Regions from separate parts of the Homo sapiens genome. Here region 1 is linked to region 2. The links come from fine-mapping of genetic effects on gene expression. A gene starts in region 2. The other region holds a variant in brackets. All regions are shown on one strand. Distances are from middle to middle. Region 1 has its middle 45 kb from the start of SDR9C7. Region 2 holds the start of NACA (nascent polypeptide associated complex subunit alpha).

Region 1 (5,376 bases), 160 kb before region 2:
CAGGGATAAAGCCAAATTGGTCTTGTTGGATAAGCTTTTTGATGTGCTGCTAGATTTGGTTTGCCAGTATTTTATTGAGGATTTTCACATCAATGTTCATCAGGGATATTGGTCTAAAATTCTCTTTTTTTGTTGTGTCTCTGCCAGGCTTTGGTATCAGGATGATGCTGGCCTCATAAAATGAGTTAGGGAGAATTACCTCTTTTTCTATTGATTGGAATAGGTTTATAAGGAATGGTACCAGTTCCTCTTTCTTCCTCTGGTAGAATTCGGCTGTGAATCCATCTGGTCCTGGACTTTTTTTTGGTTGATAGGCTGTTAATTATTGCCTCAATTTCAGAGTCTGTTATTGGTCTATTCAGGGATTCAAGTTCTTCCTGGTTTAGTCTGGGAGGGTATGTGTGTCCTGGAATGTATCCGTTTCTTCTAGATTTTGTAGTTTATTTGTGTAGAGGTGTTTATAGTATTCTCTGATGGTAGTTTGTGTTTCTGTGGGATCAGTGCTGATATCCCCTTTCTCATTTTTATTGTGTCTATTTGATTCTTCTCTCTTTTCTTCTTTATTAGTCTTGCTAGCGGTCTATCAATTTTGTTGATCTTTTCAAAAAACCAGCTCCTAGATTCATTGATTTTTTGAAGGGTTTTTGTGTCTCTATCTCCTTCAGTTCTGCTCTGCTCTTAGTTATTTCCTGCCTTCTGCAAGCTTTTCCATTTGTTTGCTCTTGCTTGTCTAGTTCTTTTGATTGTGATGTTAGGATGTTGATTTTAGATCTTTCCTGCTTTCTCTTGTGGGCATTTTGTGCTATAAATTTCCCTCTACATACTGCTTTAAATGTGTCCCAAAGATTCTGGTACATTGTGTTTTTGTTCTCATCAGTTTCAAAGACCATCTTTATTTCTGCCTTCATTTCGTTTTTTAGCCAGTAGTCATTCAGGAGCAGGTTGTTCAGTTTCCATGTAGTTGAGTGGTTTTGAGTAAGTTTCTTAATCCTGAGTTCTAATTTGATTGCACTGTGGTCTGAGGGACAGTTTGTTGTGATTTCTGTTCTTTTACATTTGCCGAGGAGTGCTTTGCTTCCGACTATGTTGTCAATTTTGGAATACGTGTGATGTGGTGCTGAGAGGAATGTATATTCTGTTGATTTGGGGTGGAGAGTTCTGTAGACGTCTATTAGGTCAGCTTGGTGCAGAGCTGAGTTCAAGTCATGGATATCCTTGTTAACCTTCTGTCTCGTTGATCTGTCTAATCTTGACAGTGGGGTGTTAAAGTCTCCCGTTATTATTGTGTTGGAGTCTAAGTCTCTTTTTAGGTCTCTAAGGACTTGCTTTATGAATCTGGGTGCTCCTGTATTGGGTGCATATATATTTAGGATAGTTAGCTCTTCTTGTTGAATTGATCCCTTTACCATTATGTAAGGGCCTTCTTTGTCTCTTTTGATCTTTGTTGGTTTAAAGTCTGTTTTATCAGAGACTAGGATTGCAACCCCTGTTTTTTTTTTGGTTTTTTTTTTTTTTTTTTTGCTTTTCGTTTGCTTGGTAGATCTTCCTCCATCCCTCTATTTTGAGCCCATGTGTGTCTCTGCACATGAGATGGATCTCCTGAATACAGCAAACTGATGAGTCTTGATTTTTTAATCCAATCTCCTGTCTGTGTCTTTTAATTGGGGCTTTTAGCCCATTTACATTTAAGGTTAATATTGTTATGTGTGAATTTGATCATGTCATTATGATGTTAGCTGGTTATTATGCCCATTAGTTGATGCAGTTTCTTCCTAGCATTGATGGCCTTTACAATTTGGCATGTTTTTGCAGTGGCTGGTACCAGTTGTTCCTTTCCATGTTTAGTGCTTCCTTCAGGAGCTCTTGTAAGGCAGGCCTGGTGGTGACAAAATCTCTCAGCATTTGCTTGTCTGTAAAGGATTTTATTTCTCCTTCACTTATGAAGCTTAGTTTGGCTGGATATGAAATTCTGGGTTGAAAATTCTTTTCTTTAAGAATGTTGAATATTGGTCCCCGCTCTCTTCTGGCTTGTAGAGTTTCTGTGGAGAGATCTGCTGTTAGTCTGATGGGCTTCCCTTTGTGGGTAACCCAACCTTTCTCTCTGGCTGCCCTTAACGTTTTTTCCTTCATTTCAACCTTGGTGAATCTTACAATTATGTGTCTTGGGGTTGCTCTTCTCAAGGAGTATCTTTGTGGTGTTCTCTGTATTTCCTGAATTTGAATGTTGGCCTGCCTTGCTAGGTTGGGGAAGTTCTCCTGGATAATATCCTGAAGAGTGTTTTCCAGCTTGGTTCCCTTCTTCCTGTCACTTTCAGGTACACCAATCAAATGTAGATTTGGTCCTTTCACATAGTCCCATATTTCTTGGAGGCTTTGTTCATTTCTTCTTATTCTTTTTTCTCTAAGCTTCTCTTCTC[G/A]CTTCATTTCATTCATTTGATCTTCAATCACTGATACGCTTTCTTCCACTTGATTGAATCGGCTACTAAAGCTTGTGCATGCATCACATAGTTCTTGTGCCATGGTTTTCAGCTTCATCAGGTCATTTAAGGTCTTCTCTACACTGTTTATTCTAGTTAGTCATTTGTCTAATCTTTTTTCAGTTTTTAGCTTCCTTGTGATGGATTTGAACATCCTCCTTTAGCTCGGAGAAGTTTGTTATTACCGACCTTCAGAAGCCTACTTCTGTCAACTCATCAAAGTCATTCTCCATCCAGCCTTGTTCCATTGCTGGCGAGGAGCTGTGGTACTTTGAAGGAGAAGAGTCCCTCTGGCTTTTAGAATTTTCAGCTTTTCTGCTCTGGTTTCTCCCCATCTTCATGGTTTTATCTACCTTTGGTCTTTGATGTTGGTGACCTACAGATGGGTTTTTGGTGCGGATGTCCTTTTTGTTGATGTTGGTACTATTCCTTTCTGTTTGTTAGTTTCCCTTCTAAAAGGTCCGTCAGCTGCAGGTCTTTTGGAGTTTTTCGGAGGTCCACTCCGGACCCTGTTTGCCTGTGTATCACCAGCAGAGGCTGAAGAATGGCAAATATTGCAGAACAGCAAATATTGCTGTCTAATCCTTCCTCTGGAAGCTTTGTCTCAGAGAGGCACCTGCTTGTATGAGGTGTCAGTCGGCCCCTACTGGGAGGTGTCTCCCAGTTAGGCTACACGGGGGTCAGGGACCCACTTGAGGAGGCAGTCTGTCTGTTCTCAGAGCTCAAACACTGTGCTGGGTGAACCACTGCTCTCTCTTCAGTGCTGTCAGACAGGGAAGTTTAAGTCTGCAGAAGTTTCTGCTGCCTTTTGTTCAGCTATGCCCTACCCCCAGAGGTGGAGTCTACAGAGGCAGGGAGGTCTCGTTGAGCTGTGGTGGGCTCCACCCCAATGTTATCAATTTCTTAAGGGGAACTTAAATTAATATTTCATTGTGTTAATTAAACTCACTTTAAAAACATAAACTGTGTTCATAAATTTAACATATTTAATTTTCTTTTAAAGTATGTCTTTAATAGAATTGTAAACAAAAGAAAATAAATAAATACAATTATCAATTGTATGACTGATAAACCCTAAATAAGCCTTATAAATCAAGTAATACAACATATAAATATGGCAAAGCCATGTTATCTTAAACTTTCTAATATGATTTATAATATAGCACAATTTTCTTTTATCTTAAAATCACAAATCTAATTGAATACTCATTATACATTTAAAAATTGGAATTAGAAAGCAAATGTGTTTGATAATCTATTATGTGAAATTGTTCATAATATGCCACATTCTCTTTTATTTTTAAATACTTAAAATACTGTATAAATCATTTCCAAATTTAATTCAAAATAATAATTCAGGGTTTGGTTTACTTGACTGTCTCTATACATTACCATTTCTATACTCTATTATAAATCTCCTCAGACATTTACCCAATAAAGAGAAAATTATTTCATTCCAAATAATTTGACATTGCCTTTTAAAGTGGCTGAACTTGGATATAAACCTGAGATTTTGATTGGGATAAGAATATTTATAGCTGTAGACATATAGCAAGAATTTTCTCACAATGATGGGGAACATTTATTAGAAGCCCTTTTAAATGCCCCTATGCTGCATGGGGATGCCTCACACAACCCACTACCCCCGCCTTATAGTGGGTGCCCCTAATTCGCACATCCAGTCTGTATTAGTCCATTCTCATGTTGCTATAAAGAACTACCTGAGACTGGGTTATTTATAAAGAAAAGAGGTTTAATTGACTCAGAGTTCTGCAGACTGTACAAGAAGCATGGTCCAGGGAGGTCTCAGAAAACTTACAATCACAGCAGAAGGTGAAGGGGAAACAGGCACATCTTACATGGCCAGAGAAGGAGGAAGAGGATGAAGGGGGAGGTGCTACACACTTTTAAACAGATCTCATGAGAACTCACTCACTATCATGAGAACAGCAAGGGTGAAATCTGTTCCCATTATCCAATCACCTCCCACCAGGCCCCTCCACCAATATTATGTATTACAATTGGACATGAGATTTGGGCAGGGACACAGATACAAACCATATCATTCGGCCCTTGGCCACTCCCAAATCTCGTGTCTTTCTCACATTGCAAAATGCAATCATCTCTTCTCAACAGCCCACCAAAGTCTTAACTCGTTTCAGCATTAACTCAAAAGTTCACAACCAAAAGTCTCATATGAGACCAGGCAAGTCCCTTCCACCTATGACCCTGTAAAATAAAAAACAAGTTAGTCACTTCCAAGATATAATGGGGCTACAGGCATTGGGTAAGTACACTCATTCCAAAAGGGAAAAATCAGCCAAAACAAAGGGACTACAGGCCCCATGCAAGTCCAAAACCCAGAAGGGCAGTCATTAAATGTTAAAGCTCCAAAATAATCTCCTTTGACTCCATGTCTCACATGTAGGCTACATTGATGCAAAGGGTGGGCTCCCAAGGCCTTGGGCAGTGCCACCTCTGTGGCTCTACAGGGTACATCTCCCTCAACTGATTTCATGGGCTGGTGTTGAGTGCCTACAGCTTTTCCAGGTGCACAGTACAAGTTGTCAGTGTATCTATCATTCTAGGGTCTGGAGGATGGTGACCGTCTTCTCACAGCTCCACTACGCAGTGCCCCAGTGGGGACTCTGTGTGAGAGTTCCAACCCCATATTTCCCTTCTGCACTGCCCTAGTAAAAGTTCTCCATGAGGGCTCCACCCCTGCATCAGACTTCTGCCTGATCATCCAGGTGTTTCCATACATCCTCTGAAATCTAGACAGAGGATCCCAAGCCTCAACTTTTGCCCTCTGCACACCTGCAGGCTTAACACCACATAGGAGCTGCCAAGGCTTAATGGCTTGCACCCTCTGGAGCAGCAGCCTGAGACTTATCTGGGG
Region 2 (5,376 bases):
TAAAGGACTGCATTGAAAATCTTCCAGATCATGTATTTATTAGGTAGAAATTGATTATGTCTACAATTTAATAGTAACAAACTTTTTAAGTTTTATGTAAAGATTACATGGGATAATTTTATGAGATAGACTGTTTCTTTTTCCTTCCAATTAGAGTGTGAGTGTGTGTGTGTATATATACACACAGACTAATTTAATCTTCCAAACAATCCTATCAAGCAGCTACTATTTTTCCCATTTTACAGATCAGGAAACTGACATGAATATATATATAGGTTAATTGCCTAAACTGACCTAATAGATTTAGACAAAGGAGTCTTATTTCAGAGTCTGTCTTTAATGACTCCACAATATTGCCTCTCCTATTTGAGGAGGATTTCAGAATTTCCCATTCCTGGTAAACCCCACTATCTCACTTAATTTTAATTCACCAATCCTAATCCTCATTTCACTACGCTAAGGATTTCAGAAATGTTAAAGTAGCTTTCAAAGCATTTTAAATTTTCACTGCTTCCCTTAAAAGGCGGCCACACCAGGTATGGTGGCTCACACCTGTAATCCTAGCACTATGGGAGGCCGAAGCGGGTGGATTGCCTGAGCTCAGGAGTTCGAGACCAGCCTGGGCAACACGGTGAAACAGGAGAAGTTTTGTGGCAGGAGAATTGCCAGAATCCGGGAGGTGGAGGTTGCAGTAAGCTGAGATCGCGCCACTGCACTCCAGCCTGGGTGACAGCGAGACTCCGTCTCAAAAAAAAAAAAAAAAAAAAGGTGGCCACAGTCGTCTTAAAGCTATTAAATCAGGCCAGGCATAGTGGCTCACACCTGTAATCCCAGCACTTTGGGAGGCTGAGGCAGGCGGATAACCTACGGTCAGGAGTCCGGGCGGGGAGGCGGGTACCTATAATCCCAGCTACTCTGGAGGCTGAGACGAGAATCGCTTGAACCCGGGAGGCCGAGGTTGCAGTAAGCCGAGATCGCGCCACTGCACTCCAGCCTGGGCGACAGAGCGAGACTCCGCCTCAAAAAATAAATAAATGTTGACTGGTTTAGCTAATTCAGGTACAGCAAATATTTGTTGAGTTCTTTTGTAGGGCTGTGGGAAGATATGGGAGGCTTTTCATTAACACAACACTGATTTTACATTCTACTTTTCAAAAATACAGTTGTACAAAGCATGGTTTAAGGTGGGGTCCCAGACACCTAGAATAAATAAGCTTAGAATATCCAAGAAGTGCCAGGGGCGGTAGTTCACGCCTGTAATCCCAGCACTTTGGGAGGCCGAGGCAGGCGGATCACCTGAAGTCAGGAGGAGACCAGCCTGGCCAACATGGAGAAAGCCCGTCTCTACTAAAAATACAAAAAATAGACTGGCGTGGTGGCGCATGCCTGTAATCCCAGCTACCCGGGAGGCTGAGGCAGGAGAATCGCTTGACCCGGGAAGGGGAGGTTGCAGTGAGCCGAGATCGTGCCTTTGCACCCCAGCCTGGGCAATAAAAGTGAGACTGTCCCAAAAACAAAACAAACAGGCTGGGCATGGTGGCTCACGCCTGTAATCCCAGTAGTTTGGGAGGCCGAGGCAGGCGGATTACCTGAGGTCAGGAGTTCAAGACCAGCCTGGCCAACATGGTGAAACCCGTCTCTACTAAAAATAAAAAATTAGCCGGGGGTGGTGGCACACACCTGTAATCCCAGCTACTCGGGAGGCTGAGGCGGGACAACTGCTTGAGCCCTGGAGGCGGAGATTGCAGTGAGCCGAGATCGTGCCACTGCACTCTAGCCTGGCCGACAGAGCGACTCAAAAAAAAAAAAAAAAAAATCCAAGAAGTGCCCAAAATAGCAAGCAAAGGAATTGTATATGTGCCTATGTTCTTTTTTTCTGGGAAGGAGAATCTGCAGCTTTATAATTTCAACATCGGCTAAATTGTCGTGAACCTAAAACAATCAAAAGGGCCGGAATCTATTTAAAGAGTTTATTCAAGGGCAGTGTGAGGATGGACCAACCAGAAAACCTCCAAAGAATGGAGTCAGCCTTCAGAAGTAGAGAAGTTACGATTTCATTTATTTAGGGAGACAGAGGAGTTTTTAGCTGGATTACGTTATCCATACAAGGTTGGAACATAATTACAGAATTTGGTTACAAGAAGTGTTTTTTTTGGGGGGGGGGCGGGGGTACAGCTAACATTGTTTTACGAAGAGTTTAACACGCATGAGTTGCTGTCATCTGGTGACATCGTTTGAGTCTCTCTAGTCATTGAACAGAACAAGAAAAATCGAATTAAATTTATAATCTGAACTGAAGTTATATGTGACCCATCACATCTCTCAAGTTTTAAAATGGGTTTTTTTGTTGTTGTTGATGGGGGGGGAGAGGGTCCAGCAGCTTTTAAATGTTTTCACATCGTGTGTTCCAAAAATAACTGGTTAGCCTAAGTCACTTCCACCCTCCAATGTTGTGAATGCAGTCTCTAGCATTCGCTATTTAATGTCTTCTTCCTGCACTATTTGAGAAATCGCGAGGTCGACTTAATACCGCAGTCGCCACTTCGCGGACCGGAGGGCGGAGTCTGCTTAGTTCTGAGGACTGCGTGGGTCCGCGCAGAGAGCTCCTGCTAGGCCTGCGCGTCCCGTTCTAAATTCTTACCCTTTAGTCCTTGTCACCACCCCCGCCGTGGGAACGGCCTGACAGTCACTCGTCAAAGGAAGTGGCTGCCGGCAGCTCTTGACCCGGAATCGGATCCTAGTCCCACCCCCTCCGCTCCAGGCTTCCTTCTGCAACAGGCGTGGGTCACGCTCTCGCTCGGTCTTTCTGCCGCCATCTTGGTTCCGCGTTCCCTGCACAGTAAGTACTTTCTGTGCCGCTACTGTCTATCCGCAGCCATCCGCCTTTCTTTCGGGCTAAGCCGCCCCGGGGACTGAGAGTTAAGGAGAGTTGGAGGCTTTACTGGGCCACAGGGTTCCTACTCGCCCCTGGGCCTCCGGACAAAATGGGGTCTGCGGTTGGTGTCCTGGCAAAAGCAGGGTAGAAGGGCTGCGGGGCGGGCCCAGAATCCGAGCCTGCAGAGATGGGAGCAGTTGCAGTGTTGAGGGCGGAAGAGGAGTGCGTCTTGTTTTGGGAACTGCTTCACAGGATCCAGAAAAGGGTAAGGGGTCACAGCCTTAGAACCTGTAACACCGTTCTCCCTGTGACAAGCAAGTGTTGGACTTAAAACACCGTCTTTCCCCTCCTGGTACCCCAAAGTCGGCAAACGTAGTCCAGGAGGCCCCAGCCCAGCCAGTGTGAGTATTAGGAGTGGAGGGGGTTCACAGTAGCGTCTGAAGTCTCCCATGATCGAGAGCCAGCCCGGGATCCTCTCCCTCGGGTTGAGAATGCAGTGGGAATTGCTGGCCTTGATAGAGGCGTGAGGGTCACATCATATTTACCTCTTATTCCCAGGTGCTTTGGGGAAGGTTGTCACCAAACACCCTCACGATTTTTTTCTAACAGCCCTCCTCGGAGTTTTTAAGAATACTTATCTCCGGGTTGGGCAAGTGAATGTATCCCAATCAATTTAGGCCTCCTTTTTATTCCCTTCCTTCAGAAATGCCCGGCGAAGCCACAGAAACCGTCCCTGCTACAGAGCAGGAGTTGCCGCAGCCCCAGGCTGAGACAGGTAGGTTTCCCTACCCTCCTTGCCATTAATTAAAATTAACCCTAAAGCCATTTGGTGGGCAAAATGACCAAGGGGAAATACACTTTTTAGGAGGATGGGGTTGCAGCTTTACCAAGGAGGATAGACCGTAAAATTACTATCCTGGAGATACTTCTTTAGGGATTTGGAGTAAAAATAATATTTTTAAGATTCGTGGACGTTAAAAGTACCCTAGCTTGCTTTCTATGTTATGCCTGTCGCCTCAAAAGAAGCTCTCCTGTGGAACCCCCACCTCACATAGGAAAACTCAGCAGGGAATGGGCTCAGTGATTCTTACCTATTGGAACTAGATGACACAGGCCAAGGAGCCCGGAGCATTTGTGAAACTCCAGCCAGCAAGTTGCATCAAGGTTTTAGTTAGCAGAGCTTGGCATTGTGCCTTTATCACATGTCTGGATGAGATGTGTGCTGGTGGTAAATGTGTCCTACTGGGCCCCAGAGTCGTCCTAGGTCGGATAACTTGTTTATGGGTTGGTGGTGCTGAGATACTTCTAGTGTGCTGGAATAGTTCCTGCATCATTGTGTGAAACCCAGGATTGAAATAAATCCTTTTATCCTCAGCGTCGAAATTAACGACTGTGAAGGCTAATTTTAAATTCTGGTTAAAACATATCTCTGTAGAAAACTTAGGAGGAGGTAATGAAAAGTTCTTAAAATGATAGCCTTTCTGAGTCAGTTGTGCAGCGTTAAATGAAGGAAATCTTCAGGCTGTAATTTTCATTCTCACCTTTTTGGTTTTTTTTAAATTTCATTTGTTATTTAAGGGCAATTCCTGTCCCTTTTTGGAGTTACAGTAGAGTTGCTTATAGTTGAAAGCATAAAGTTTCTTCCCACCTGTTTGATTTTAACAGCTGAAGGGATTAATACAGCTGCTAGGAAGGACAATAGGGGGCTCTAAGCTGGAGTATAAACAATATGAAATTCTTGAAGTACAAGGGGCTTAAGGAAGGGAAAAAATAAAGTACTGTTCTCTAAAGATTCTGTAATTTCAGTACAAAACGAGATTTTAGAGATTGTGTCATTGAACAACTTAATTTTACAAATACGAAGATTTGAAATTCAGATGAATTTAGAATAATCTGATTCAAGCTTCAAAACTAATGCATTTACTTCTGAAACAGTCCTTAATGCTATTAAACGTATTCCTGAATAGTCTGAGTTGCATAGTAGGCTTATATTAAGGAAGTACCAATGATAAATACACAAGGTTTTATCTGTAATGATAGTCTATTAGAATGAAGAAGGAAGCTCAAGGAATTGTTGATGGTGTCAAAGCAAGTATTTGAGTGCTTATTCCATTTGAGGTCCAGTCAGAAGAAAACATATTCCATGTTTTTAATTCTGATTCATTATGTTTGGTAGCGTTTTCCTGTAATCGTTAGACTTTGGCCTACCCACTCTCCAGGAAAAACTAGTTGAGCCACCTTGTCTTTTCCATGGTAGGATGCCATAAGAACTTCAGAATTACTGGTTGAGTGAATTTTGAATTTGAATTTTGGTACCACGGGCTTCCCCCCCGCCCCCCTTAACATTCCCTTCTAAGCATTGAGCATTTGTTGATCCAATTCTGTGTTACCTCCTGAATGCCAGAGATACTGTCTTACTGTCATGCCAAACATTGGTGTATTTTGACATAATGAAACACTTAAATTCCAAGTTAAGGAGTGGGGATCCAGTGTATTCTCGC

What was found. PIP is the estimated chance that this variant, and not a neighbour inherited with it, causes the effect. A credible set is the group of variants that fine-mapping cannot tell apart.
Region 1: its variant is the best candidate, but not a certain one, in a credible set for the expression of NACA in whole blood (TOPMed, PIP 0.59).

What each region holds. Positions count from the first base shown.
Region 1 is chr12:56,886,350-56,891,725 of GRCh38, reverse strand. No RefSeq gene overlaps it. Among named protein-coding and RNA genes, the nearest start is that of SDR9C7, 45 kb to the left of the region's middle. The variant G/A (reference allele first, on the strand shown) is at 2,418.
Region 2 is chr12:56,722,726-56,728,101 of GRCh38, reverse strand. NACA (nascent polypeptide associated complex subunit alpha) reads left to right here and starts at 2,803. Exons shown (of 9, transcript NM_001365896.1): 1 at 2,803-2,839; 2 at 3,579-3,650. The coding sequence starts at 3,581. RefSeq lists enhancers at 2,728-2,857, 2,948-2,997, 4,057-4,176.